3 separate regions of the Homo sapiens genome follow, and all the other regions are reported to be linked to region 1. Evidence: microRNA targets listed by miRTarBase, many of them from high-throughput screens and not tested one by one. Region 1 holds a microRNA gene; each other region holds the end of a gene's coding sequence.
The links. Region 1 holds the annotated microRNA hsa-miR-6823-3p (UGAGCCUCUCCUUCCCUCCAG, at 5,052-5,072, shown strand). A microRNA usually pairs through its seed, bases 2 to 8, with sites in the 3' UTR of a target mRNA and lowers its output. Matches are read on the target gene's strand: a 7mer-m8 pairs with bases 2 to 8, a 7mer-A1 pairs with bases 2 to 7 and ends in A, and an 8mer does both.

Region 1 (7,810 bases):
TGTTGCCCAGGTTGTAGTGCAGTGGTCCTATCTCAGCTCACTGCAACCTCTACCTCCTGGGTTCAAGCAATTCTCCTGCCTCAGCCTTCCAAGTTGCTGGGATTACAGGTATGCGCCACCATGGCCGGCTAATTTTGTATTTTTAGTAGGATGGAGTTTCACCATGTTGGCCAGGCTCGTCTTGAATTCGTTATCTCTAATGATCTGCCCCCCTTGGCCTCCCAAAGTGTTGGGATTACAGGCATGAGCTGCCATGCCTAGCCAAGTCTGTGAGCCTTTAAGGAGTAGGTCCTCAATAAGCGGAGGCAGGGTATTCTGTCATCACTACCATTCTTTCTTTGCTTCTCACTACGTCTGAGTCAGGGATTGATGCATCAGCTCCAAGCCAACCCCCGTTACAGGTGAGAGGAAGCTGAGGCCCAATGGGAAGGTCTCATAGCTCCTGAGGCAGGGCTTGTGTTTCTCCAGGCTCTAAGTGTGGAACTGAAATGTGGCTCTGGCCTGAGCTGAGGGGCTCGTGCCATCACGGTGTCTCAGGGTGTTGGGGTAGGCTGGGTTCTAGGTCCGCACTTTTTCCTGGAGGAGGAGGTAGCACCTGAGAGGCCAAAGATGAGACCTGCAGGTTGTTTGGGGATTTGGGCCTCAGGGTTCACAGCAGGGAGTGGGTAAGCAGTGAATGAACATGGAACCCGCCCATGCAGCACCTCCAGCTCCCAGTGCCTGCATTTGGGCAACACTTTACCCTTTGCATAGTAGACTTGTAGGTTGAGTGACTGCAAGGACAGTCTGGACCCGGAGGGTGTGGGTGGGGATGGAAGCGGATTTGGTCCCAGGGCTTTGTGGGGAGGAAGAAGCAGGACCCACTGCTGGTCTGTGCTTTGTACTGGGTTTTCTCTGGAGTCTAGTCCCCAGCTCCTCAGGGCACTAGGGGCTGGTGGACTGAGGGATGTACTGCACCTCCTCCACTCCCACAGGCACGCCCCCGCTTGATAAAATTTAAAGCCACACCTGAGGGCTTGGGAGGCTTTTACCTTTCCCATCATTGGCCTCCGAGCTCAGACCTGGAGGAACTCTGAGGGCAGGTGGGGCAAGAGCTGACTCAAGAAGGACTGCAGAAAGGACGGTGTTTGATGGCTTTTCTCAGCTGAAAGGTGGCAAGACTCTTCCTGGGTAAGGACATGACTGGTGTGTGCACAGGGCAACAGGAGAGATGACTTTCAGTCCCCTCTGAAAAGGGCCTCCATGGCACGTTACTTTATTTTAAAGAGCTCTTCCTTCCCTAGCCTGGCCTAAGGAGGTGAGAGCAGTTGCAGTTCAGGAGTCAATTCTGGCACCCCCTCCAGGGACTTGTGGCTGCTCCTTGGGTAGAAGTAATGGAACATAGACACTGCCCATTGCCAGGCACGTCTCAGGCCCCTTGGGCCCCTTCGCTCCTAGAGCTCATGGGGCCTGCAGCGAATTTACAGGAAAGGAACCCATGAGGGAAGTTGGGCTGACATGTCTTCACATTTCCTTCCGCACATGCTCAATGTTATAAACAGTGTGTTCTTTTTTTTTTTTGGAGACAGTCTTGCTTTGTCCCCCAGGCTGGAGTGCAGTGGCACAATCTTGGCTCACTGCAACCTCTGCCTCCTGTGTTAAAGCAATTCTCCTGTCTCAGCTTCCCGAGTAGCTGGGATTACAGGTGTGCACCACCACACCCGGCTAATTTTTGTATTTTTAGTAGAGACAGGGTTTCACCATGTTGGCCAAGCTGGTCTCGAACTCCTGACCTCAGGTGATCTGCCTGCCTCGGCCTCCCAAAGTGCTGGGATTACAGGCATGTGCCATCACGCCCAGCTATAAACAGTGTATTCTACCATCCTGTTTGCTCAGTGTCAGGGTCCTGTGGGCTCAGAGCCACAGGTGCAGCCGTGCACCCAGCCCGCTTAGTCCACGTGCTCTGTTTTGAGAGCTGCAATGTGTTCCCTCCTTGTTGTGCCTCAGTTGGCAATTTCTTATGGCTGGAATTTCCCAGTGTTTTGCTATGGTAAGCAGAGCTGTTGTGATACACTTGAACTTTGGTTTTCTTTTGGGTCATTTCCTTGGGAGCTTATCTTGGGGAGCAGAGGAGATAGGTAATTTATTGCCTTGTTTTGCACCCAGGCCTGATTTGCTGCCCTGCCTGCCCACCTTGTGCTGCGCATGTGGGTGGAAGGCGGGAAGGGAAATGCCACCAAATGCCATGGGAGGAGGCTGGAGCTGTCTCTGGGAAAATAGGAGATGTGGAGAGGGGGTGCAGATCCCCAGTCCTGAGGTTTTGGGAGTCCCTGAAGGAGCAGTTGGGGGGTGGCCCCATCAGCGGGAGCAGGGTAGATGCAGGATTTCCTCCTGCTTAGCAGCTGTCGCACTGCCCTTGGTTGCTTGAGAGCCCGGCCACCTGGCCGGGAACTATGCAAACAATGCACAATGCGGGCCTCAGCTGTCCACCGGCCCTGAGGAGGCAAGGCCTTGCCTAACTTGTTTTCCTCTCACCTTAGCTAATACTGAGAGTTCTCTGCAAGTTTCTCCACTCTCACTCAGTCAGCCTGTTTCATGGGGTCTCCTCCTTCCCGCCCCTGAGGCTCACCATTTGGGTCACCTTTAAACAAGGGGAATGCACAGGAGTGATGGAGCCCCCACTGGCAAGCAAGGCCCTTTGTTTCTCTGCAGGGCCTGCCTGGGGCCAGGCCACCGCCTCCATGCCCTGAGTCCCAAGGGCAGTCGGTGCCGAGGTACACCTATGGCTTTAGCTCAGTATCCGCCAGGGTAGGACAGAGGGCACAGCTTCCCAGAAGTGCCCAGGCTCTTGGATAGCACTAGGCTTCTCTGAGGGATGACTGCCCCATTTTACAGCTGGGGACACCGAGGCTCAGAGTTCCCAATGAGTGTCAGACTCAAGATGGCAACCCAGGCCTGACTCCTGATCCCCTGCGGAAGTGCTTCTGGGGCCTCTGTGCTCTGAGGGAAACAACTTGTTGGTGGGGACAGTCTGTCTAGGCAACCAGGTGAAGGCACTTGCAGAACCAAGAAGAGGGGCAGTGACAGGTCCCCACATCTGTTCATCTGCCTGTCTGCTATGGTTTTACCTGACCCAGGTCCTAAGGATGAGGAAAAGGAAGCTTCCTGAGGCTTCTGACGTGAGACCGCGTTTGATGGCACTGGAAACTGAGCTGAGGGCTGGGCTCACGCCTGTAATCCCAGCACTTTGGGAGGACGAGGCAGGCAGATCACCTGAGGTCAGGAATTCGAGACCAGCCTGACTAACATAATGAAATCCTGTCTCTACTGAAAATACAAAAATTAGCCAGGTGTGGTGGCATGTGCTTGTAATCCCAGCTACTTGAGAGGCTGAGGCACGAGAATTGCTTGAGCCCGGGAGGCAGAGGTTGCAGTGAGCTGGGTACCAGTGTCCTCCAGCACTCCAGCCTGGGCAAGGGCGACAGAGCGAGACTCCCTCTCAAAAAAAAAAAAAAAAAAAAAAAAAAAAAAAAAGAAGGCTGGAGGTGATGGCTCACACCTGTAATCCCAGCACTTTGGGAGGCCCAGGCAGTCGGATCACCTGAGGTCAGGAGTTTTGAGACCAGCCTGACCAACATGCCGAAACCCCGTCTCTACTGAAAATACAAAAATTAGCCAGGTGTGGTGGCAGGTGTCTGTAATCCTAGATACTTGGGAGGCTGAGGCAGGAGAATCGCTTGAACCTGGGAGGCAGAGGTTGCAGTGAGCCAAGATCGCACCACTGCCCTCCAGCCTGGGCAACAGAGTGAGACTCCGTCTCAAAAAAAAAAAAAAAAAAAGAAAAGTGAGCTAGGTCCCATAAGATGAAGCTGGCAGTTCTGCTGCCTTGGTATCTGTTCTAGCCAGCTGGGAATATAGGGGGCTGTATTCAGATCCTTCCGTGCCTCTAGCCTGGCATCTTCTCTGGCTGGCACACTGACCTGTGGCACATGGATGGTGGTGGGTGGGCTATCAGAGGGACTGTCCTTGTGGGCATCAGTCTGGGTCTCTGGTCTCAACCCCTTGTGGTCCTTACCCTGAGAGACTTCTAGATGCCTCCCTCCCTGATCCTGCCCACAGTTCCTGAGCACCAGCGCTGTGCCAGGCCCCAGGGCCCTAAAGGGCTCAGATACCACAGGGCTTCTTCTGCTGTAAGTGATCAGTCTAGAGAGAAGAGTGTCATTAGTGAGGTGACCAGGATTGAGGGTGAGGGGTGTTCCCGGTGGCCATGGAGATGCCTTGGGGAAAGGACTCATTGAGGAAGTGACTTTTTAGCTGGGCTTTGTATGATGAAAAGAAGTTCACCACAGGGAGGGCATGCAGTGGGGCTATGTGTTCTGGGAGCACTGAGTGATGGATGGGGTGGGAGAGATGTAAAAAGGTTAGGGTATGGATTCCTGGATGACAGAGGCAGGGTGTTGATTACCCTGCTGGGTTTTGGTCCTGTCCTTCATGCGGTGGGGACCCCCCTAGCCATGTTTAGCCAGTGGCAAGTTCGGTTGACTTTATGCCTGGTGGTGCACATCAGGATGAAAAGGGCTGGAGAGATCCCACTGTGTCTGCCAGAGCCCAGGCGGGCCTGGGGAAGGGGGACATGCCAACGGTGGCTTGAAACCAGCATCTGGGGCCACTCCAGGAGCTGTGTGGGGATGCTAGGAAGCCAAGAAGATACGTCTGATGCCAGTCCCATGCCCTGAGGCTGAGAGACCACAGGCTGAGAGGGAGGGGTGCGCTGGGAGGGTCCCAGCCCTCATCTGACACTGTGCTGCTTGCCTTTTAGTGTGCATGACCAACTGCCCAACTCTCATTGTCATGGTGGGCCTGCCCGCCAGGGGCAAGACCTACATCTCCAAGAAGCTGACTCGATACCTGAACTGGATTGGTGTGCCCACTCGGGGTGAGGCTTGGCCCCAGCTGTCTAAGGGGAGCTTTGTGGGGCATGACGAAGAGAATAGAGAAGGCCTATTCTCTATTATTTGGCCTGGGGTTGGGTCAAGGTCAGGGTTGGTAGGGGTTGCTGTTGCTGTGAAAGCTGAGCCTCTCCTTCCCTCCAGAGTTCAATGTTGGCCAGTATCGCCGGGACGTGGTCAAGACCTACAAATCTTTTGAATTTTTTCTCCCCGACAATGAAGAGGGCCTGAAAATCAGGAAGTAAGTATATGTGTTGGGTGTGGGGGGAGAGGTTGCTGGGGGACCCAGTGTGGAGAAAGCTAACACATTACTGACCATTTACTGAGAAGCCCCTGGAGTGGAGCTGCTGGTGAATGACTGAGCTACTCCTGAGCCCTGGCCTTGCCCAGCCCTGATGGCTGTGTGACAGGGCTGTGTGACAAGGCTGGTCTCTGGATCTCTCAGGATGTGGTGGGGGTGGGAGGTGATGGGTTTGGGGATGAGAGGAGAGGGTGTGTTGTGTGGCCTCCTGGTGGCTGGGCCATTCCTGCCCTGGGGTTAAGGAACCCTTGGGAAGGACAGAGCTTCAGGGAGGTAAGAGGGGCTCAGCCCATGCAGGTCGTTGGAGCTGCTGCCTGGAGGTCACGCTCGCTCACCCCAGCGCCCCGTGGGGATGGCTGCTGCTGGGGAAGGGAACCTGAGTGAGTGCAGGCATACAGGCCTTAGGGATGGAGCTGGGGGTGGGGGGCTTCCTCCCTTGCCCCAGGATAAGCTCTCTCCTGTGTATTTGGAGCATGTTCTTGGTGTGTGATTGCTGGTGCGATTGGCTTTGCATTGACATCTCCTAGATGCTGCTGGGTGAGTCGTTCACACTTCTGCTGTTACTCTGGAGATAGAAATATGTATATGCTACCGCCCCACCCTCAACAACTTTCAGACTTGAACTGAGTCCTTTCTTCAAGGAACTGAGCACCAGCTGGTGGTCTGAGCAGCCATGCTGTGCTTTTCTCAGGAGGTGTTAGCTGTGGTCTTGAGAAGCCCCTTATCAACCTAGGGTGGCAGAGACTTGCTCTTGGCCCAGCCATCAGGATAGGGCAGTGAGCAGAGGTTGACCCAGCTCTAGTGACTTCCCCAAATCAAGCCCAGTGGCTACCAGGCTGCCACTGGGGTCCACACTAGGCTACCCGTTCCTTCTCTGGCCACCAGGGGGCAGGAACTCCCTGCTGTGGGGCTTGGACCTTCAGACTGGAGACTGCCTTTGTTCTTGCATCGGTGTGGCTGGGCCAGGCTGTGGCACCAAGAAGGGAAGGGGAGCCTGATATTCAGGTTTCTATGGCCAAATTGTGGGTAAAAATCAAGGCTGGACCCTCTGGTTATATTGAGCCAGATAAAAAGTAGAGGACTAATGTCTGAACCTACCGTGTGCTGGGTTCTTGATGCCCATTGTCACCCCCTACTTTTACAGATGAGGAAACTGAGGCTCAGACAGGCCAGGAGTCTCGCACAAAATAGCAAGTTTACATCAGCGCCCAGACTTGAATCTAAGCCCATCCACCGCTAAAAAGTGTCCATCATTCCAATATTCCTCAATAGGTAGGTCAAGGAACATCAAATGCAAATTTTATTTATTTATTTTAAAAATTATTATTATTTGTGTGTGTGTGTGATGGAGTCTCACTCTGTCGCCCAGGCTGGAATGTAGTAGTGCAATCTCAGCTGACTGCAACCTCCGCCTCCCAGGTTCAAGCAATTCTTCTGCCTCAGCCAACAACCCCAAGCTGTGGACGCTGATAGCCTACTGTCTGATCTTCCCAGCAGCTTCTGTGGTGGGCGGTGCCTCACTTTTCCAGATGCTGGGACCAAGGCCAGAAAGTGATGGGGGTGCCTTGGGTCACTCAGGGTTTGAATTTGAAGTCCGTCCTGCCTGAATCCATAGTGTTTGTGGGGAGAGTCTGCCAGCTGTTCCACTCTGGCTGTCCCCCTAAGGTAGGGATATTTGGGATTAATTCAAATGAAGAGACCTAGACTCAGAGAGGTTGGGAAGCTAGTCCAAGGTCACCCTGCAACAGAAGCTGGGGACAGGCTCATTGCTGCCTTTCTGCAGGCATACCCTCTGGCTGCCCTAGAAACCCTCTCTGCTGTATCCGAATCCTGGCTCTGGCTGGGCCACAGGGCCATCTCCTATTAATCAGCCCAAAATTTCCCAATTAGCAAAATAAAAGGACCAGAGTTTTTAAAATGGAAAACCTGGGAAGAGACAGCTGCATTTCCCAGAGGCCCAGTTACTCACACAGTGTTGAGGTCCATCTCTGACACTGGACACAGCAGAAGATCTAGAAAAGTGCGTGCAAGGCCGGGTGCAGTGATTCACGCCTGTAATCCCAGCACTTTGGGAGGCCGAGGTGGGTGGATCACTTGAGGCCAGGAGTTTGAGACCAGCCTGGCCAACATGGCAAAACCCCATCTCTACTAAAATTACAAAAATTAGCCACATGTGGTGGGGCGCCTGTCATCCCAGCTACATCAGGAGGCTGAGGCATGAGAATTGCTTGAATCTGGGAGGTGGAGGTTGCAATGAGCCAAGATTGCGTCTCTGTGCTCCAGCCTGGGTGACAGAGTAAGACTCTGTCTCAAAAACAAAGTGTATGCAAGGGCATAAGTACACATATTCTAAACAGGCACACTCATACTCCTGCACACAGTCCTATACCACACACAAGCCCCCTATGCACACACACACGTGGGCACATGCATGCATGTGCATACCTCATAGGCACACATCCGGACATGCGTATACCATATGCACAGGGTACATACACATGCACACCCCCTGTGTACACAGTCACGTTATACATAAGGGTATATGTACATGTGTGGGCACCTACACATATAAATACTTGGG
Region 2 (7,810 bases), not on the chromosome of region 1:
GCATGGTGGGTGGCTCACACCTTGTAATCCCAGCACTTTGGGAGGCTGAGGTGGGCAGATCACTTGAGGTCAGGTGCTCCAGACCATCCTGACCAACATGGTGAAACCCTGTCTCTACTAAAAATACAAAAATTAGCCAGGGGTGTTGTGGGGTGTGCCTGTAATTCCAGCTACTCGGGAGGCAGAGGCAGGAGAAATGCTTGAACCTGGGAGGCGGAGATTGCAGTGAGCCGAGATCACGCCACTGCACTCCAGCTCAGGCGACAGAGCAAGATTCTGTCTCAAAAAAAAAAAAAAAAAAAAAAAAAAAAAGAATGCATTGCTTCCTCCACAGATGATTTTGAAAAGCACCAGGGTAAGATAAAGCCATCAGTCCAAATGACTGCGTTTGTTTCCCCGCCAGCCTAGAACTGTTGAACACCTGCACTGCTGTAGCAAGATGGCTTCATCCAGGCAAAGTCACGCCTGCAGGCAAAGTCACACCTGATGAAACCACTTCACTCGGATAACACCCCCAATTCTAGCTGAGGCGCTGTCGGGGCCCAGGCTGGGAGTATCAACCAACAGCAACAGGTGCCTCCCTCCTACGGGCTTCACGGGCTCAATTCCGGCATCTCAGTTGGGTGCCGAGTGATTTAGTTGGTCGTGTCTAATAAAATGTTACTTCTGTACAGCTGCTAATGAGCTGATGGAAAGTTAGACTCCACTCATTTATTCTAAATAGAGTAAGCATCTGGAGAGATGAAAAACCCCAATACCTCTGAATTGTGAGCCTGCCTGTCTCCCATGCCCAGGCCCGGGCGTGTGCCCGCCGCTCCGTTTCTTGGCATCTCGCAGTGTTCTAAGGGCTTTGGCATTGTCACCTTGCCCGATCTTCACACCTGGGGCCTCCCTCTCAGATGGGAAACAGAGCCGCATGGAAGGCTGCGAGCCGGCCTCGCTGGAGCCCGCCTTGGGGACATCCTGGAGGCGGGAGGCCATCGGCACTAGAGCCGCAGATTCAGTCCTAACCTACTACGCATTTGTGAGTCATACAGAGCTCCAGGGATCACAAATCTGGAGACCTTCCTCTTTGGAACAGATTTCCAAACTGAAATCTTCACATGCTGAGAAAAATCAAGTCCACTGATCTAACGGAACGCTCAACGGGTGTGTTTTCTGTTTGGGATTAAAGCGTACAGAACGGAGGGTTGCAAAATGAAAAGAAAATGGCACCCATCTATACTGTGTTCTTTCAAAATCTCAGAATTACAGGAAAGGTGACGGAAACACAGTGTAACATCAGTTTGCAGAGATATTTGGAAAAAAAAAAAAAAAAAAAAAGGACACAGCCATTTCTGAAACCCTCTCTCTTCACTCCACAGAGCAGTCTTTGCTTTGTTTAGCCTTTTTATTCCACTCAGAAATTACAAGCTAAGGCTGGGCACAATGGCTCATGCCTGTAATCCCAGCACTTTTGGAGGCTGATGTGGGCGGATCACCTGAGGCCAGAAGTTTGAGACCAGTCTGGCCAACATGGCGAAACCCTGTGTCTACTAAAAATACAAAAATTAGCCAGGAATGGTGGTGCACACCTGTAATCCCAGCTACTCGGGAGGTTGAAGCAGGAGGATTGCTTGAACCCGGGAGGTGGAAGCTGCAGCGAGCCAAGACACCACTGCACTCCAGCTTGGGCAACAGAGTGAGACCCCTTCTCCAAAAAAAAAAAAAAAAAAAAAAAAAAAATTCATGTCGCTTTACTAATCACTGAATTTTACTGCTGGGTTGGTTTAAAACCAGCCACTTCTTAAACGTACATTTTCATTTATATTTCTGTATTTTTCATCAGTAACCTTTATCTTTTCATTACAGTCAATATTAGAATGGTTTCTATTATGTAGTAAAATATCTTGACATTGAAAAAAAAAATCTCTTACATATAGTACACAAAATACCAGAAGCCTCAAAGATTTTGCAAATAATGTGATCTGTCCCCCACCCTCCCCAACAGCCACGCCTGGGAATAAACCTGGTTGTGATTTGCGGATATGGAATGTGGACTTTGTGCTGTTCCCTACGCCCCTTTAAACAGGTCCTTTCATTCGTTTTGAGGGAGGGGGGATCCAGGGGGCAATGCCTTTTACATGTTTATATGAGCAGACAGGTGCTAATAATTACATGTACTGCTTGATTTTCCAAAGCAAATATATCTCAAGCTGGGAAAATCTGCTGTCTGAGCCTTCAGATTCTGAGCGACAGATAAATTAAGGGGGACTCTTCCTTAAAGGAAGCTTCTCCCCCTACATAGGGAGGTGGGTGGAGAATATCAGACATGACCCGCCAGAGCTTTTTCCTTTTCCCATCCCCGTTCCCCGACATCAGGCTGACTCATCCCAGAGGACGAGAAACCTTAAAACCTGGCCTCTCCCGATTATTTGTATTGGATGAAATGGACCCTGGCCCTACTCCCTGGGAAGAGAGGGGCTCTTGGGACATGACTTACCTCTAGGTCTTAATAATTACAGACTTGCAAAGAGCTTGACTTACTGACACACTGTCCGCCGGAGACTCCTACAGGGCGGGCACACATCTACTTACTCCCACAGCGGCGCCGGGCCCGTATTCATGGGATGCAGCCGCGTCGTCACACCCGGATCTGCGGAGGTGCTGGGAGACAGACTGCCAACACAGGGGCGGGCATCCCTCCTGTGCAGCTCCTGGCTGCCCTGACTGCAGCCCCCTCCCATACAGGAAAACCCGCTGGCAGGTGTGGACGAACCTTGGATCTTGGCCTCTTCTCTAAAACAAACAGGACAGTGCAGGGGGTGAAGAAGCACCACTTTCAGGTCACATGGCCCATGGGCAATTCCAGGGAATTCCAGTTTGTGAAGAGAAAGAAGGCACCAACCGACTCATCTCCAGCTGAGTCTTAAAGCACCAGTGACTCCTGAAAGCAGGACAAGAGGAGCTCCAAGGGCAACTGTGATCGGCAGAACAAAGGTGGGAGGAAGCCCCCCCGTGCTCCAGGGAAGACTGGCATGGATCGCCTGTTTTAACCCCATCAGGAGGGCCATTTGGTCGGTATTTAAGCAAGCCACTGTTTGTCACAGCAAAGCCTGATCCCCAAGGGCCTCGGTAAGGAGCTCTGAACTGGGGACATCTTGTGCAGTTTTGAGTCCACCCCACCAGGGTGACCCCCGCGACGACACGGCACCTCTTTACAAAAACTGAAAATGGACCAAAGTGTTCCACAAAGAAATGCAGGTTCCTGGAACATTCTTAGTGAGTGATTAACCCACAGTGACTGTAAGCCAATTGGCAACTGCTCTGCATGTGGATAGGGGATGCCCTACACACATGTACGGGCAGAACACGCTAACTAGAGCTGGTGACCGTGTTACAGATGCCATGTCCCTGAACCTCAGGAGGTCTTCTTTCTGGGGCAGCAGCAGCTCTGACCTGCACTGCTATGTGGAGTGTTGGCAGAGGACATGTGAACGTCAGGGAAGGTGTAAAGGGTCCGGGGTTTGGGGAAGAGATGAGACAAGCGACCCTGGGGTGGGCATGGGGGCAGGAGTGGGAGAGGCTCAGTGCTACGTGCACTGTGGCTGTGGCTCCTCCCCTGGTGGGCCCAGGACAAGGGGGTTGGTTTCCAGCCAACATCCCCACAGGCACTATTTAGAAATATAAATAAGGCCGGGCACGGTGGCGCAAGCCTGTAATCCCAGCACTTTGGGAGGTCCGAGGCAGGCGGATCACCTGAGGTCAAGAGTTTGAGACCAGCCTGAACAACACAGTGAAACCCCTCTCTACTAAAAATCCAAAAATTAGCTGAGTGAGGTGACTCATGCCTGTAGTCCCAGCTACTTGGGAGGCTGAGGCACAAGAATCGCTTGAACCTGGGAAGTGAAGGTTGCATGAGCCAAGATTGCGCCACTGCACTCTAGCCTGGGCGACAGAGTGAGACACCGTCTCAAAAAATAAAAAATAAGAAAAAGCAATATAAATAAAAGAGCATGGATTACATGGAACTGTTTCTCCTGGAAGCACTTAAGTGAAGCAATATGCCACAACGAAGATATCACACACAAAAGACGGGGCTGGACAGGAACAGCAACCACAGGGACCCTCATCACGGCTTCTGACCCAGCAGACGTTGCATCTGTGGATGGCAGGTGGCACATGCCTGCATCTGGATACAAGAGTGAATTCTTGCTAAAACCCAGGGGTGCACAGTGTGTAGACAAGCCACTCGCATGTTCGAATACCAACAAGATTCAGCTCCAAAGAAACCCCGCATGGCAGCTAAGCCACGAGGCTGACCTGGGAAGCTCCAGTGACTCATCAAAGTTTGCTGGACAATTACAATGTAAATGTCACGGCCCATCAGTGCCCAGCACTGCTTCTGTCTCTGTAGTAGCCACGGACACTGCGGTGGCCTCAGAGCAGAAGGCACAGAATACCAGGGCAGCATCACAGGGCACCAACACCAAGGACCTGAGGCCGCCACCTTTAACCACGCCACAGTGCAGGAGAGGGCCCTGTGCATTCTGTCCTGGGAGGCGCCCACAGAAAGCCACCCAAAGGGCTGACGTTGGTGTTCGGGCACACCTCTGACGGGGCTCCTGTTTCTGGAGGGCAGGTATGGAGAACGCTTATCCCCAGGACTGGGTTTTGCACGTCATCTCTGCCCTGGGTGTCTGGGGACCAAAGTTCAAAGCAGTGCTTATTGGTGTGTGCAAGAAAAGAAATTTGTTTTGTTTTGTTTTTTGAGATGGAGTTTCACTCTTGTCACCCAGGCTGGAGTGCAATGGCACGATCTCAGCTCACTGCCACCTCCGCCTCTTGGGTTCAAGTGATTCTCCTTCCTCAGTCTCCTGAGTAGCTGGGATTACAGGCATCCGCCACCATGCCTGGCTAATTTTTGTAGTTTTAGTAGAGACGAGGTTTTGCCATGTTGGCCAGGCTGGTCTCGAACTCCTGACCTCAGGTGATCCGCCCGCCTCAGCCTCCCAAAGTTCTGGGATTACAGGTGTGAGTCACCGCGCCCGGCCAGAGAAAAGGACATTTTAAGTGCACGTGTGTTATCTTTAAGAACCATGATTTAAAAAGAACAGTAACGCCATATAAAAAGAGGTTTATTTCGATGTTAGAATCATCTAGTGATCGAACAAGATTGGACATGAACCCACCCAGGCCCAGGGCTGGGCTGCCGAGCAGCTGCCGCTGACATCTGTGTGGATTTGACATGCAACAGGGAGTAGCCACGTGCTCGCTCGCTGGCCACTGTGCTTCGAAACGTTTTTCCAGCGGACGGCTGTGATTGCAGTTTTCAGATGTGCTCTGGCCTCTAAGGACGTGGGGCCGAGGCGGTGTCCTCTGTATAAAAAGTGCTGTCCTGGGAGCTTCCCAACGGACATCTTGGGGCATCTGAGTGATTCCCAGGGAGGGCAGCTTGGCCTTCCTCAGGCTACCACTGCAGCCACCGCCGGCCATTCTCACCAGCAATCAACCAAAAAGCATCAGAGCCTCTGTGAACCTGGCTGTGATGGTAAGAACCAAATGTTTCCTAAGCTAAGACTTGTATGCAGAACACAGAAAACTGCAGTTAGGAACACCCTACAAAATTGAACAACAGTATTTTCCAAAAATATCTTTTACATCACTTTAAATAATTTACAAAAAGCTACAAAAATCATATTTACCAGGACACGTCTGTTAAATAAAAGTTTCATGTTGGTGTACATATATACAGGGCTATGTATAATAGACTGTTTCCCTTCCTTGCAGCCACGGAACCATCACACACACGCACGGCTACGCCGCTTTCCACGAATGCACGCAACCCAGGACGCGAACCCACAGCTCGAGGGCTTAGACCTTCACTACTGAGCTGCCGCCACTGTCCTCCGTGGAGGTGTCGCTGAAGTCACTGGCGTCACTGCCCAAGGCGTCCTGCTCCTGGTCATCCCTGTTGACCCTTCGTCGATACCTCAGGTCTAAAATGCTTTCCTCCGAGCCCGAGCTCCTCCTGTCATGCAAACTCAGCCCTGCCTGTGCCTTCCTGGTTGGCCAGGGGCCGCCGTCCTTCTTTGCCAGCAAGTGTGGGCTTCCAAAGACAGGGCTGGGTCCGGCCTGGGCCTCCCTGAAGGCCGAGAAGGAGGGGCCCTGCAGAGGCAGCCCCAGGTGGGGGCTGAAGAGGCCAGCCTGCCTGCCCCCCCAGGAGACACCCTTTCCAAAGTGGAAGAGCTGGGTGGACAGCAGCGGCGAGAAGCCCGCAAGGGGCAGGCTGGGCAGGCCCCGGGCGGGGCCCTCGGACCCCTTGTCTCTCTCGCTCCCGACGCCCCCCCTCCACACTGCATCTCTGCCTTCGGAGCGCAGCACCCACGGGCTGGGCAGCCGACTCTGGTGGGCGAAGTCGCTCCAGGGCGGTGTGCGGTCGGCCTGGGCTCCAGCGTCCCTCTCCGCTCCCGGGCTGGGGGTCAGGAAGCTCGGGCTCCCGCAGCCCATGTGAAAGGTTCCTCTGGCGCCTCCTGCCTCGGTGCCCGCTGTGGCACAGCTGGGCAGCTGACCAAAAGCACTTTTGGCAGCAGGCTCAGCCCCTCGTGGGCTCTGGTCTTTGTGAACGTAAACATTTCTCCTGCTCACTGAGAGCCCCTTGGCGGAGACACCGCCGCTGGTGCTCCTGGGCGGCACCGGATCCCCTCGGGCAGGAGCAGCAGGGAGCCCCTTCCCGCCCTGGCTGAACAGACCAGCTGTGCCCTGTGCTCCTGCGCTCTCTGTGCCTCGAAGCCCTTCGGCCAGATGTGGGACCCCCCTGGCCCTCTGGCTGCGTGTGCACACGCCAGGCGGTGGGGCAGGCTCCTTCCTGCACAGCACCTCTGGCCTGGCTGGGCCCCCTGTCCCAAGAGCGGTGGGGCCCTCTGCCTGAACTTCTGAACTGCTCACTGACTCCTTGGCCTTTTCCGCCAAAAACTTCCTAATCTCCAGTTCGATGCTGTCGTTGCTGTCCACTGAACTGCTGTCATCAGACAGGGAGCCGGGGCTGGGAGCTGGGCCCTGGGACTCCCTGGGGAATGGATTCCCTTCGGAGGCAGAGGCGGAGGCGGGTCTCCTCACCCGGAAGGCCAGGGCCGCGTCCTGGCTCGCGGCACCCTCCTGCCTCATCCTCTCTGCCGTGCTGCCAAAGACACTGGGGGGTTTCTTCCCAGGACCCTCGCCACTGTCTCTCTTGGACTTGGAGAGGCAGCTCTTCAGCACTGGCGGGCCCCTGTCTTTCCAGTCTCTCCGGAGCCCGCCCAGCTGCTCCAAGAAGTGCGTCTGGGCTGTGCTGAACCTGACCTTCTTCCTGCACGCAGCCCTGGGCTCCCTGCACCTCTTCTTGAGCTTTCGCTTGGACCTTAACAAGTCCTTGATGGCTGTGTCCAGGTCCTCGTCACTGTCCAGGGAGCTGCTTTTGTCTTCAGAGCTCTCTTTCTCGTCTAGGCGCCTTGCCTCGTCTGTCTTACCCTGGCCCTGTGACATGCGAGTGTCGCCAGGGCCCCTGGCGGTGCCCTCCCCTCCCAGGGCCTCACTGGCTTTGCCCTGGATGGGCAGGTCTCGCCTCTCATGGCCGGGCTCAGCTCTCCCCTGGCTGTGGTCGGCATCCTGGCTACCGTCTTTCACCACCTCCTGCATTTTCTTGGGCGTGGATGGCCTCACATGGCCACCACCTCTACGCTTCCTTTTGCAGCCCAGCAGTGGGTCTGGTGTTTTAGAGAGAGGGGTCTTGTGGCCGCCGGTCTGGCTGTTGAGGCCAGGCGGCAAAAGTGGACCCTGGGCAGCCTGCGGG
Region 3 (7,810 bases), not on the chromosome of region 1:
AACTAGATAGACAGATATAGATAGATCGTCTATAGATAAATATAGATAGGTTATATATATAGAGAGAGAGAGGGCAACCAGCTTTTCATTCTGTACCCTTTTATGTTTTTCATTGTTTGTACTATGTGCAGGTATTGTATCTATTATATATATATTTTTTTCTAGGATCATATAGCTAATGGTTTATCATTATAACTTTTCACATTCATCCTTTCTTTCCTTTTAGGAAACAACAATTAGTGACATCCTTGAATCCGAAGTAGTGAATGAAATATTGCCTTTATCAAACTCCAGGTTAGTAAAGTCAAGACAAATAAAGTCAAGTCTATCTGAGATGGACTGTCAGCCATGCCTGAGAGTCATGGCTGCCTAACTAGTCCTGGATTGCTGGCTTGAGAAGGCATAGCTTTCTGGGGTCATTTTCTCTACATGAATTATTTGAATCTTCTTCCAATTCCTCCCCTTGCCACTCCTTCAACTCTAAACCCCACAGAATCCTGACTTAAGGTAGGAAATAAAATATGAACATAGGTTTAAGGTAAATTTTATTTGGCTTTGTGTAACAGTTGCAAAAAATTGAAATTCTATCAATGCCTGTATCCCTGTAACCCCGAACTGCTACCAACAAACTCTATGTACATGATGTCCTCACATATGGCATTTCTTAGTTTTTCAGGAAAAGGTTTGGTAGAGTCATTTGCAAGTCTTCAAGAGACTGAAGAGATCAAGTCAAAAGAAGCAATGGCAAGTTCAAAGTCCCCTGAAAAGTCTCCTGAGAATCTTGTGTGTTCACAGAATTCTGAGGCTGGATACATAAATGTGGCTTCTCTGAAGGAGACACATGGTATACAAGAACAAGACCAAAAGTCAGAACTATAAAATCACTGGTGCCTAAAGCTATACTGAACAAAAGTGGTAATTTAAAGCCTGGACAAAAGGTGGACCATGACATTGAGAAGAGTTACCACAGATCCCAAATGGATATCACCCAAGAGTCTTCAAAACTGCTGATAAATTCATTAAAGCAGTTGTAAAAATGGATTTCTCAAGTTTGTTTGATATCCTCAGATGCCTTGTATTGACCAAAATATTGACTTTAGTTCAATGATTTATTTAGGTTTCTCTTCAGCAGAGCACATGTAGGGTTAATTCAACATTCTTTCCCATTATCATGGGTATCTTTTCTGATTTATTTTTTAACAGTAAAAACAATACAGTCACATTAAAGCAAATTTTGTTTTTAAAAAAACCCTCCTATGCTGGGCGTGGTGGCTCACGCCTATAATCCCAGCACTTTGGGAGGCTGAGGTGGGTGGATCACGAGGTCAGGAGATCGAGACCATCCTGGCTAACACGGTGAAACCCTGTCTCTACTAAAAATACAAAAAAATTAACCGAGTGTGGTGGCGGGTGCCTGTAGTCCCAGCTACTCAGAAGGCTGAGGCAGGAGAATGGCGTGAACCTGCGATAGCACCACTGCACTCCAGCCTGGGTGACAGAGTGAGACTCCGTCTCAAAAAAAGCAAAAAACAAAAACAAAAACCCTCCTATAATACCATAAGCTTTTTTTTTTTTTTTTGAGACGGAGTCTCTTACTCTGTCACCCAGGCTGAAGTGCAGTGGCATGATCTCCGCTCACTGCAACCTCTGCCTCCCAGGTTCAACCAATTCTCCTGCCTCAGCCTCCCAAGTAGCTGGGATTATAGGTGCCCGCCACCATGCCCAGCTAATTTTTGTATTTTTAGTAGAGACAAGGTTTCACCATGTTGGCCATGCTGGTCTTGAACTCCTGACCTCAGGTGATCCACCCACCTCAGCCTCCCAAAGTGCTGGGATTACACCAATACCACAGTCTTAACACAACTAATTTTATTTTACAGTTATTCCCTTTTGGTCCTAATTCAAGTACATATATTCTAAGTGGTTATTATAATATTGTATATTCATTTTCACAGTTTGATTTTTAATTTACTGTATATACCATGGAAACATTTTCAATCGCCATATGATATTCAATCATGTTGATGTTCTATAATTATTTTTATGGGAAAAGTTTTAAATGTTTAATGAAGAAGATTTAGAGCAATACATTATTTAAAAGTGGATAGGAGGTTGGGCGTGGTGGCTTACACCTGTGATCCCAGCACTTTGGGAGGCCGAGGTGGGCAGATCACCTGAGGTCAGGAGTTCGAGACCAGCTTGGCCAACTTAGGGAAACCCCGTCTCTAACAAAAATACAAAAACAATTAGCCAGGTGTGGTAGTGCGCGCGCCTGTAGTCCCAGCTACTGGGGAGGCTGAGGCAGGAGAATCACTTGAACCCGAGAGGCAGAGGTTGCAGTGAGCCGAGACTGCACCAGTGCACTCCAGCCTGGGTGACAGAGCAAGACTCCATCTCGAAAAAATAAATAAAATAAAATAAAATAAAAGTGGATAGGAAAATACCAAGAGCTTTTCCTGGGGGAGGGGGTATGAGAAGAGAGTTCACATAAACCCCATTACACAGAAACTACCCCTAAATATTTCCAAACAGGAGTACAAAGTAGGTGAACAGTCTCCAGCTCATCTTTAGTGTAGTGGGACTGCTTCTTCAGAAAAGATCAGCAACATTCACATCCATTTCATCTATCAGGGTGGAACAGTACTGCTCAGTATCTCTGAGGATGTGGATGTTCTATAAATTAAACGTTCTCTTGTTTGGCATTTAAGCTGTTTTTACTTTTTTTTTTTTTTTTTTTTTTTTGAGACAGGGTCTCACTTTGTAACCCAGGCTGGAGTGCAGTGGTTTGATTACTGCTCATGCAGCCTCAACCTCCCATGCTTAAGTGATCCTCTCTCCTCAGCCTCTCCCAAGTACAGGCATGTGCTACCATGCCTGGCTCATTTTTGTACTTTTTGTAAAGACGAGGTCTCACTCTCACTCTATTGTTCAAGCTGGTCTCAAATTTCTGGGCTCAAGTGATCCTCCCACCTAAGCCTCCTAGGTGATAGGATTATAGGATGAGCCTCTATGCCAGGCCTGGTTTTACTTTGTTACTATTTAAGATTATGCTGTGTTGAAGGTCTTTGTGCATGTAGTTCTTTTCTTCTTTTGAATTACTCCAGAAAACAAATTCGCAAGATTGGACTGAGTCAAAGGATATAAATGTTAATATTGCTCTAGGACATCACTTCCTTTGCTTTAAAAAAGGGTTCTGCCTGACCAGGTGCGGTGGCTCACGCCTATAATCCCAGCATTTTGGGAGGCCGAGGCAGGTGGATCACTTGAGGCCAGGAGTTCAAGACCAGCCAGGCCAACATGGCAAAGCCCTGTCTCTACTAAAAATACAAAAATTAGCCGGGTATGGTGGTGCACACCTGTAGTCCCTGCTATGCGGGAGGCTGAGGCTCGAGAATCACCTGAACCCAAGAGGTAGAAGTTTCAGTGAGCTGAGACCACTCCACTGTACTCCAGCCTGGGCAAAAAGTGAGACTCTGTCTCAAAAAATAATAATAATAAATACATAAATAATAAAATAAATAAAAAGTGTGTCAACATACTGTTTTCATAGTCAAGTTACTCAACCTCCTTGAGCCTCAATTTCTTGATTCCTAAAATGGGAACAATAATAGTTCTCTATCCCATAGGGTTGTGAGGACCAAATGAAATGAAGCATGTAAAGTATTTAGCACGTAGTAACTGCTTAATAAATGCTATCATCATTTATTTTCACTAGAGGTTTATCAATGTACTATTTTTTTCACAACCTCATCAACATTGGATATTATCAATTTTAAAGATTTATTCTAAAACAGTTGGTATAAAATTATACTGAAGCGTGACTGCTGCTGTTCCTTTTCCCCCTCCTCCCCTTTCTTCTTTTTCAGTTGGAGGAGACCAAGAGGAGAGGATCAGTAACCAGAAATAAAAATGACCCTTTACATTGAGACACACTGTATTTTTATATGTAATCCTTGCTTTCTCAGACAACAGAGCTAGAAAGATGATCATAGGAACTAGGAAATAATAACTATTTTATTAAATGCATGCTGTTATATTGAATGAGCCTTGCCCAAGGTCCCCTTCTTTCACTAAATTCATTGCATCTATTATTTATTGAATACCTACTATATGCTATTCAGTAGGCGACATTGCAGCTACAGCTGCGAATAGGACCAGGAGAGTCTCTACTTTCATGGAGTTTATATGCTATCAGGGAGGAAGATTATGTGTGTGTGGCAGGAAATGAGGTGTAGACACATACCATACGAAGATAATGTGGAAGTGGGGGTGGCATGAAGAAAACAAACCAGTGATCTGAATGACCAAGGGCTACTTTAGATTAGGTCTAATGTTGCCTCTCAGGAGGTAACATCTGGGGTGAGCCCTGAACTACAAGGAGCATTACTTCCCACACGCATACCCCAACCAACCCCCACAATCCCCCGCCAACCCACATTAAGTTCTGGAAGGAATATTTCAGACAGAAGTAACAGCTATTACAAAGCCCTAAAGAGAGGAGGGATCTCAGTGACCTGGAGGAACAGACAGGTCAGAGCACAGTAACTAAGGGCAAGTGGTACAAGATGAGGTCAGGTACGTGATAGCCAGATAAATGCACTGTAGGGCTTCGTATGCACGGAATTGGATTTTATTCTAAATATGGGAAGCCAGGAGTTATTTTTAAAATAAATAGGAAGCACAAGAGTTATTTTAAAAATAAAAAATAAAAAACTCTAGTTGCTTTATGGGAAATGAATTGGAAATGACAAAACTGGTAGCTTTTGTGGCAGAACAAACATTATCTATTGTCCTGACTTAGAGGAAGGGATATTTACTTAGCAAGCCTGTACGTGCCAAGCTGTTCTAAACGCTGAGGATGAACAAACCAGAGTTCCTGCCTTCACGGTGTTCACACTAGCGGGCAGAAGACAGACAGCACGTGTGGCGGTGCAGAGGGCTTGGCTGCAAGAGCCGATAAGGAGGACCCTGGCGACTGCCTAGTCCAAAAGTCCTAGCTAGAGCAAGATCAACTTGTACTGCCCTTAGTACAGCCACGTGAGTGGGGTGACCATTGACCTTAACCAAAAAGATGTCAAGGCTTTCCTCCTCCTCACTCCCGCGTCCCCAGTGCCAGGCAGAGTCTCTCAGCTAGACCCTAGCAGTCTCAGCACACACCGCACGGGGCGACAGCTTCCGGGGGCGGAGCCTGGTCTCGCTCCACGTCTACCGCGCCTGCTCCCCGGACGAAATCCGCGGACCGGGCTTTAGGTTCGCCGGAATCCCACGCTCCCGACTTCTGCTTCCGGGTCGGAGCCATGGCGGTGGCAAATTCAAGTCCTGTTAACCCCGTGGTGTTCTTTGATGTCAGTATTGGCGGTCAGGTGAGATCCAGGAGGCTGCCCACACCTGCGCCGAAGGGAAACTGCTCGGGGCTAGGCAGGCAGAACTCACCCAGAGAGAGCGGACTCGGGAAGCCAGCCAGAAAGTGAAATTGCACCCGAACCTACCGACCTGCCGGGCGGGGGGAAAGGAGGAGGAGGAGTCTCCCCAATCCTAGCGCCCCGCTTCTGGAGGAACTGGGCGGTTAGACTAGGGAGGCGGAGGTGGGAGATACCGAGCGGCAGGGTGGTGGGTCAGCCCATCATGCCCCCTGCTCCGTGAAGCCCTCATGGTCTTGGACTGGGCCTTCTGACACTCTCCCGCTGATTGCAGGAAGTTGGCCGCATGAAGATCGAGCTCTTTGCAGACGTTGTGCCTAAGACGGCCGAGAACTTTAGGTAAGGACGTGCTCCAGCTCCGCTGGATTAGCTGAGGCAGAAGTCGGGCTCCAGTCAGCCGCCTGAAATAGCCTGTCTACCTCTGTCCGTCCGCTCACTGCTCTTGAGACCTGATTCCTCCATGCATTGCTCTGTCTGGTTGCCGTTTGGATTGTTCCCGTGTTAATTTACGTTGTTAGTCTGTGTGACTGCGTGTCTGGACGTCTGGCTGGCCGATTGGTGGACTTGCTGGCTCCAGTGTTTATTCTTTCCCGTATTTAGAGGCGCTCACGACTGTGACATCATAGTGATTGAATCATTCATTTTTTGTCCCTTTCAGGCAGTTCTGCACCGGAGAATTCAGGTCAGTTTCAGATGTGTTTGACTTCTTTGCCTGCTCCAGAGGGGTGTTCTGGGGCTGCAGTGAGGGTATCGGTGAACCACCTGCTGGCCTTGAATGATTGCTGGTGACAGTGATAGAAGGTAATGCCCCAAGGGTCTGTCCCTAGTTTATTTGCCTTCTTTATGTCTGTCAACCATCTTTAGGAGAGTCCTTTTGGCTCCAGTGCATGGTAAACTGGAAAGGCCTTGTGCTACCTGCTGTCACTCCAAGTCTCTTTCTTTTCGGTTATAGGAAAGATGGGGTTCCAATAGGATACAAAGGAAGCACCTTCCACAGGTAAGGCTCTTGGCAAGCCATCCTGGAGTCTTTCAGAAATATTTCCTGGGGGATTAGGCTCTTTAGAGGAAAATAAAACCAGAGGGTAATTCTTACATTTCTTGAGAAGAAATGTTTTTGTGGACTCAACAACTGAAGATTTATTAAATGTTCTAACTCTACTTACACTCCCCCACTTCTTAGGTCTTTAAAACAGAAACTACTCATCTTTACAATATCTTGTCTTTTTCATGCACTTGTTTGTGCGAATGCAGATTTTTTAAAAAGTACACTTGTAATCCTAAAGTGCATATAATATATCCTGCTGGTTGATATTTATAACTAATTCCTAAAATGATCATATATGATTGTCCAAGGATAATCATATTTCCTGGGGAGTGGAGTATGTCAACACTTAGTCTCATTTCAATATAGAATCTTTCTCATGGCCTCACTGTGGTTAGTAACAATGTTAGCACATAATTATATCACAGCTTTAGAGCTTTGGGTCTCTAATCCCCAGTAAGACTCCTGTGAAGTGGTATGGGTGATCTGCATTCTACAGAGGAGGAAACTGAGGATAAGAAAGGTTAAGGACCCTCCCTAGGGGTAATAGCTAACAGTTGTTAAGCCCTTACATGTTTAGCAGTACATTTCACATAAATTCTCTGTAGTTCTTTCCCCCAAATTTACATCAAACCCTTGCTCTGCCTTTTGCTTTGGCAAGTAAGCTTTCAGCCCCTTCTTCTTATTACTGTTCAGGTACCAGATCATGCACTTGATCAACTCTAACATGCCCTAATTTATAACGAAAATCCTTTTTTATGGTTAATTATCCTTTCAGCTTAATCATTCAGGAAAAGAATAATCTTCAGGTTTTTTTTGTTTTGTTTTGTTTTTTTGAGACAGAGTCCCACTCTGTCGCCCAGGCTAAAGTGCAGTGGCATGATCTTGGCTCACTGCAACCTCCGCCTCCTGGGTTCAAGCAATTCTTCTGCCTCAGCCTCCCGAGTAGCCAGGACTACAGGCATGTGCCACCACGCTCGGCTAATTTTTGTATTTTTAGTAGAGACGGGGTTTTGCCATGTTGGCCAGGCTGGTCTCAAACTCCTGGCCTCATGTGATCTGCCTGCCTCGGCCTCCCAAACTGCTGGGATTACAGGCGTGAGCTACCGCACCCAGCTAAGAGTAATGATTTTATAATAGCCAAAGTGATAGTGTATTTTGAAATCAACGTTAATCTAATACAATAATAACAACATCTATGTTTTTCTAAACCATAAAATCTTCTCAGTATTCTTTGCTCTCTGTTTCAGGGTCATAAAGGATTTCATGATTCAGGGTGGAGATTTTGTTAATGTAAGTACTATTCCTTTCCTATCAAAGACCCGTAGTTTTAGTTTTTGTTGTTATT

Region 2: miRTarBase lists PPP1R26 as a target of hsa-miR-6823-3p. Seed matches in the 3' UTR shown: 7mer-m8 at 5,505-5,511.
Region 3: miRTarBase lists CCDC30 as a target of hsa-miR-6823-3p. Seed matches in the 3' UTR shown: 7mer-m8 at 3,383-3,389.

Annotation. Positions count from the first base shown.
Region 1 is chr3:48,547,223-48,555,032 of GRCh38, reverse strand. It overlaps MIR6823 (microRNA 6823), which reads left to right and starts at 5,012; the gene lies at 5,012-5,072. PFKFB4 (6-phosphofructo-2-kinase/fructose-2,6-biphosphatase 4) reads left to right here. Exons shown (of 14, transcript NM_004567.4): 2 at 4,799-4,915; 3 at 5,073-5,169. RefSeq lists enhancers at 1,950-2,611, 2,612-3,275, 3,276-3,937, 3,938-4,601.
Region 2 is chr9:135,486,184-135,493,993 of GRCh38, reverse strand. It overlaps PPP1R26 (protein phosphatase 1 regulatory subunit 26), which reads right to left. Exons shown (of 4, transcript NM_014811.5): 4 at 5,102-7,810. The coding sequence ends at 5,854. Among named protein-coding and RNA genes, the nearest start is that of PIERCE1, 9.8 kb to the left of the region's middle. RefSeq lists enhancers at 2,163-2,873, 2,874-3,584, 4,296-5,007.
Region 3 is chr1:42,653,150-42,660,959 of GRCh38, forward strand. CCDC30 (coiled-coil domain containing 30) reads left to right here. Exons shown (of 21, transcript NM_001395517.1): 20 at 227-294; 21 at 669-4,041. The coding sequence ends at 879. PPIH (peptidylprolyl isomerase H) reads left to right here and starts at 5,274. Exons shown (of 10, transcript NM_006347.4): 1 at 5,274-5,363; 2 at 5,695-5,759; 3 at 6,079-6,102; 4 at 6,373-6,417; 5 at 7,713-7,755. The coding sequence starts at 5,298. The region is part of intron 1 of LOC124904162 (a long non-coding RNA gene); the gene reads right to left.